Linked DNA regions of Homo sapiens: region 2 is linked to region 1. Evidence: fine-mapped expression QTL. A gene starts in region 1. The other region holds a variant in brackets. All regions are shown on one strand. Distances are from middle to middle.

The links. PIP is the estimated chance that this variant, and not a neighbour inherited with it, causes the effect.
Region 2: its variant is the best candidate, but not a certain one, in a credible set for the expression of RNASEL in whole blood (INTERVAL, PIP 0.67).

What each region holds. Positions count from the first base shown.
Region 1 is chr1:182,588,044-182,590,961 of GRCh38, reverse strand. It overlaps RNASEL (ribonuclease L), which reads left to right and starts at 1,706. Exons shown (of 7, transcript NM_021133.4): 1 at 1,706-1,795. RefSeq lists an enhancer at 1,831-1,990.
Region 2 is chr1:182,545,752-182,548,669 of GRCh38, reverse strand. RGSL1 (regulator of G protein signaling like 1) reads right to left here. Exons shown (of 22, transcript NM_001137669.2): 16 at 215-353. Among named protein-coding and RNA genes, the nearest start is that of RNASEL, 42 kb to the left of the region's middle. The variant A/TA (reference allele first, on the strand shown) is at 1,287.

The sequences.
Region 1 (2,918 bases):
GCACTGATGATGCCCATGAGGAGTAGGGACAGGCAGGGACTGTATTATAACCTGAAATCATGATATGTTGGGTTTTTCAACTGTTTATGATCTATTTCTGCCTATTAAGATGCAAGCTCCTAGAAGAACTCTGTGAGGAACTGGTGTGGTAAATCATTCTATGCCAGATATGCAGAATAGTCACTGGTAACATAGTCAGTGCTCAATAAGTTTTTTTTTTTTTTTTGAGACGGAGTCTTGCTCTGTCATCCAGGCTGGAGTGTAGTGGTACTATGTTGGCTCACTTCAACCTCCACCTCCCGGGTTCGAGCAATTCTCCTGCCTCAGCCTCCCGAGTAGCTGGGATTACAGGTGCACAACACCACACCTGGCTACTTTTTGTATTTTTAGTAGAGACGCGGTTTCACCATGTTGGCCAGGCTGGTCTTGAACTCCTGAACTCAGGTGATCTGCCTGCCTTGGCCTCCCAAAGTGCTGGGATTACAGGTGTGAGCCACCACGCCTGTCCAACAAGTATTAATTAAATGAATAATGGGTTAAGGATTTTTGAACTTTGTCCTGAAAATGATGGTGGGTCAATGATGCAGGGTGGAACAATGGATGAAGGGCTAGGAAGCAAGTCATCAATTTCTTGCTATAAATGATGACAAGGACTCGAATGGTCATCCCTTTGTAGATGAAAGCAAGAGACTTGGTGTTGGGATGAGGATGAGGGGTGGCCTCCGGGTGATGGTGCCATCTGTGGAGATGGAATAAGTGGGAGGAGGGGCAGATTTAGGAAAAGATGAGTATTTCCATTTGACACATATTCAAGATTTGTAGGTCTAAAGCTCAGCAGAGAGGCTGGGGTTAGAGAGCGAGGCCTGGGAATCCCTGGTGTATAAGGGGTGGTAGAGGCCCCGGGTCTGGATGGTGTGACACAGGTGGTCGTCAAGTGACCATGCACTACTTGTTGTTCACAAGTCCCAGGGCTTTGTCTCCCCAGCAAGACTGGGTATTCTTTGGGGATGGAAATACTTTCCACTACAGCACTAAGTACACAGTACACAGCTCATTGCTAGGAAGATAGTCAAGAACAGAACTTGTAGAGCAGAAAGGAACCTTCAAAACCAAGTTATAGGAGAGAACTGAGGCCCTACATGGTTAAATCACATGCCTGAGGTCACTCAGCTAAGCAGCCACAGAGCTGGCTGTAGGATCAGGTCTCCAGACTGCCAGTCCGGTACCCTTCTGAGAAGGCCGCACTGCCTCAGAGCTGTGAGTTGAGTGAGCTGAGAAAGGTGACAGGGCTTGGGCTTTGGGCTTACTTAGCTTCTATGAGCCTGCGTTTCATAATCAACAAGATTGTCAGGGGTTAACTGGGACCATGCTGCATGTAAAGCATTGTGTCTGGAACACAATAGGTGCTCAATATGTGTTTACTTTCCATTCCTTTCTTCCAAGAAGACCAGAATTTGCAATGACAAAGAAAGGATGCAAGAGTGATGGATGCAGTTGGCTGCTGCCACCTGAAAGGCTGCAAGACTGAGAGGTGAGTGACATGACCCCGGGCATCACATTCCTCATCAGCAGACAGAAAGTGGCTATTGCTTTCCTCCAGAAGGTGTGCAAGTAGAAGCTTTGCTCCTGGTGCCAGAGTGAGCCTGTGGCTGCTTTCCCTCCCACACTCCTCACTCCTTTCTTGGCTCCGCCCTGCTGACTCAGTGACGCAGCAGGAGGAAACTGCTCGGGCTGCAAGCAGTCTTCCAGGCTTTGCGGCTGCCAAAGGAATAATTGAGACGTCTGAGTTGAGCAGGTAAGGCAGGCAGAAGGAGGAAAGCTAGAAAACCTCGATAAGTCGATCCTGAAGAATTCTTGGGCTTTGGAGACTGGAGAGGCCAGGGGCTGGAGGACTTGGGAAGTGGGAGGGGAGCTCCCAGCCCTTGGCTGCCCGGAAGGATCTTCCTCCAGTGCCCTTCCAGAGTTCTGTCAGAGTCCACACGTCATTTATCCATGTCCTCAGTTTCTCAGGCATCTCTTTGCGACTTACTCAGGTCGCACAGAGAAAGTGAAATTGAAAGCAGGATTGTCTGTTGGAGTACTTCCGCAGGCTCGTCTCTTCTCTACTCTGATGCGTCACTCAGGGCTTCCTTGATATTTCCTCTCCTTCCCGGCTCCTTTGTTTATACCAGCCCACCTCACATCTGATTGTAATGGGGACGGTCTACACAAACACTTTGGTTCAAAGATTTCATTGCCTGGTGATCGTGTATGTGTTGCACAATTAATTAAACTTCTAAGAGGCTAATCAATTAACCTCTGAGGCTTTGAAACTGTCAGAGTGGTGAGATTGCTGAAAAAGGGTTGCTTCGTGAATTCTATAGCAGATGCAGTTATTTAAATATTCAGGTAACAGTTTCGGGCTGTCTGATGATTGAACTGGATCTGTAATTCTCAGATCTGATTGACAGTTGGACGAAATTGATAGCTGCCAGTTGCCTATTCGTGTAGTAGCTATATGCACATGTGTAGGGAGAATAGAATTCACTAAGCAATTTATTTTTTCATAACGGGATATAATTAGCTCTAACATTCATTGAGTGGCTAATATTTGCAACACTCCATACTTTAATGTACTTTACACACATGACTGTATTTATTTTTGTCTCCATTTCAGGAAATAGAAAATTGAGATTCAACAATCCAAGGTTACAGGAAGTAATAGTAAAAAATTACACAGCCACAAGCTCAAACTTAGATCTCCCTAAGGTCAGAGTACAAGCTCTTTTCACTACTGCAGATACTCCTTGACTTATGATGGGGTTACATACAGATAAACCCATCCTAAATTGAAAATATTGTAGGTCAAAAGCACATTTAATACACCTAATCTACTGAACGTCATAGCTTATCCTAGCTTACCTTAAATGTGCTCAGAA
Region 2 (2,918 bases), 42 kb after region 1:
AGAGGCTCCACGGGAAGGCAGAAAACCTCTCCTGGCCCCCAGAACCCCATGACCACCCCCTCTCCAAAAGGCATACGGTTTTCATGGAGTTGCTAGGTAAAGGATATGTAGTTAGCCAGGACTTATGAGGTGCCTGACAATTAGCTTTCTAATTGTCCTTGTGGGGGAAATGCTTCTTGGTGAAAGGCCAGAGTGGAGTGGGAGTCTTTCTTACCCTCAGCTTTGGAGGGATGTCAGAATTCAGGAAGAGTTTTTGGATAATGTTCATTTTGGACCGCATTAGGATCACATCATTCTCATTATATGCCCGGTTGACCTGCAGCATGTGGGCTGAACTGACCAGATCATTAAATCTAAAAAAGAAATGTGAAGTAGGAAATCAGGAGGAGAAGATGAAAACAGTGACTAACAAGGCACCCAGCCTAGACTCATTTCTGGCCCAAAAAACGCAAGGCCAGTTCTAGGCCAGGTTGTGACTTTATTCATTCAGTCATAATTCATCCATTGGCAAATACTGAGCACTTATCACAGGTCAGATAACATGTTAAGTGCCCCTTCAAGTGAATGTCTTCACCACAAACCCCCTTGTTTATCCCACCTTCCCTCCTTTACCCATTCTGGCCCTACAGCATTGCACCTCTAATGACTTCAAGGCCTAAGGACTATCTTGCTCTTCCCTCTCCTGTGCTGACCTGAGGCAAGCCCTGAGATGCAGGCAGGTCCCACTCCTGTAGAGCACTTTAGGCAATGAGAGGAGGTTTGGACTTAATTCCAGTGGTAATGGGAAGCCAGTAGAACATTTTTTTTTTGAGATGGAGTCTCACTCTGTATCCCAGGCTGGAGTGCAGTGGTGTGATCTCGGCTCACTGCAAGCTTGGCCTCCCGGGTTCATGCCATTCTCCTGCCTCAGCCTCCTGAGTAGCTGGGACTACAGGCGTCTGCCACCACACCTGGCTAATTTTTTGTATTTTTAGTAGAGACGGGATTTCACCATGTTACCCAGGATGGTCTCGATCTCTTGACCTCGTGATCCACCCACCTCGGCCTCCCAAAGTGCTGGGACTACAGGCATGAGCCACCGCACCCTGCTGCCAGTGGAACATTTTAGGCAGGAGAATAATCTAGTCTGGTTTATGTTTTTAATAGGCTACGCTGGTTGCTATACAGAGAATAGTTTGTAGAGGTCAAGCAAGGAAGAAGACGCAATGTGGTGGGAATCGGAGCAGCAGCAGGTGAGGCTATTCACTCTGACTAGTATCTCCCTCTGCTCCTCCATTACCTCCCCC[A/TA]CATCCTTTATTATCTGACTAACCTCTACTCTTCCTTCAAAATTTAGCTTAGATTACCCAAGAATTTTGGGTCTCCCAAGAAACCATACCTGAGGACTTACTGTTGTCTAAATACACTTCCTATGCCTGATTCTCCCATAGCACCTATCATCCTGAGACACTTCCTAACTTTTGTTTGTGTCTTTTCTGCCATCCTCATTAGTTTGTGGGATCTTAGAAATAGAGAGCACGTCATAGTTGTTTTTTGTATATCCAATGTCAAAACCGGTGTTCAGTAAAGAGTGAGCAATCAACAAGCATCTGTGGAAATGAGCTAAATCCATCACTGGGGTGAGTAGAAGATCTCTTAACCAAACTCTTCTAACTGATGCATGAATTATCAGGTGTCTACATTTTTGAAAAACACACTGACTGATGCCCATGACATGCTGACTGCATAGATTAGTGGTACACCTTTAGTACATTCTCATCTTTCTCAAACTAGCAGAAGTGAATGTGTACCAGGAGGTGTGTTGCTTCCCAAGTATCTTTCCCTATTGTAAAGATAATTAGTAACTATAATTGCTATAATTAGTAACTTGTGAAAACTGATAAAATATGAACATTAAAGAAAAGTTATTATTTCTATGAAAACAAGTTAGAATGTTTTGGAAATTCTAATGAAGGCAAGTAGCTTTTTAAAAAAGTGTTGTTGGCTGGGTGCAGTGGCTCACACCTGTAATTCCAGGACTTTGAGAGGCTGAGGCAGGCGATCATGATGTCAGGAGATCGAGACCATCCTGGCCAACATGGTGAAACCACATCCCTACTAAAAATACAAAAATTAGCTGGGCGTGGTGGCATGTGCCTGTAGTCCCAGCTACTTGGGAGGCTGAGGCAAGAGAATCGCTTGAACCCAGGAGGTGGAGGTTTAAGTGAGCCAAGATGGTGCCACACTCCAGCCTGGCGACAGAGTGAGACTCCGTCTCATGAAAACAAAAACAAAATACTGTTGAGTTAGGTGTGGCCAGGCAGTTTAAAACATAAAAAAAAAAAAGGTATACAAAGCCAGAAGGATTAAATTGCTTCACAGTAATCTTTAAATTCTGTTCCACTTTAAAGAAATAAAAATTGAAATCAGTAGACAGACACTTTAGGTTCCAAAATGTTAGCATAGAAGCAAGTTGGCTTCATTCTCCCATATGGAAACTCAAAACAAACAAATAGTACTGAGATTTTTACCAGCACTATCTCAGAACTCAAATATAATGAGACAGAGGAGAAAAAAGTAAAAAGAATGAAAAGTAATGAAGACACCTACAAGATATAGAAAATTACTTCAAAAGAGCAAATCTAAAAATTATTGGTGTTCAAGAGGGAGTTGAGCAAGAGCAAGGAAAAGAAAACTTATTCAAAATAATAACAGAAAACATTCTAAAACTTGACAAAGACATACATGTTTAGGTACAGGAAGGCCAGAGAACATTAAATAAATTTGACCCAAATAAGACTACCCCAAGTATTATAGTAATCAACTCTTAAAGGTCGAGGACAGAGAGAGAATCCTAAAAGCAGAAAAAGAAGAAAATAACATATAAAGAAGCTCCAATTCACCTGGCAACAGACTTCTCAATGGAAACCATAAAGGCCAGG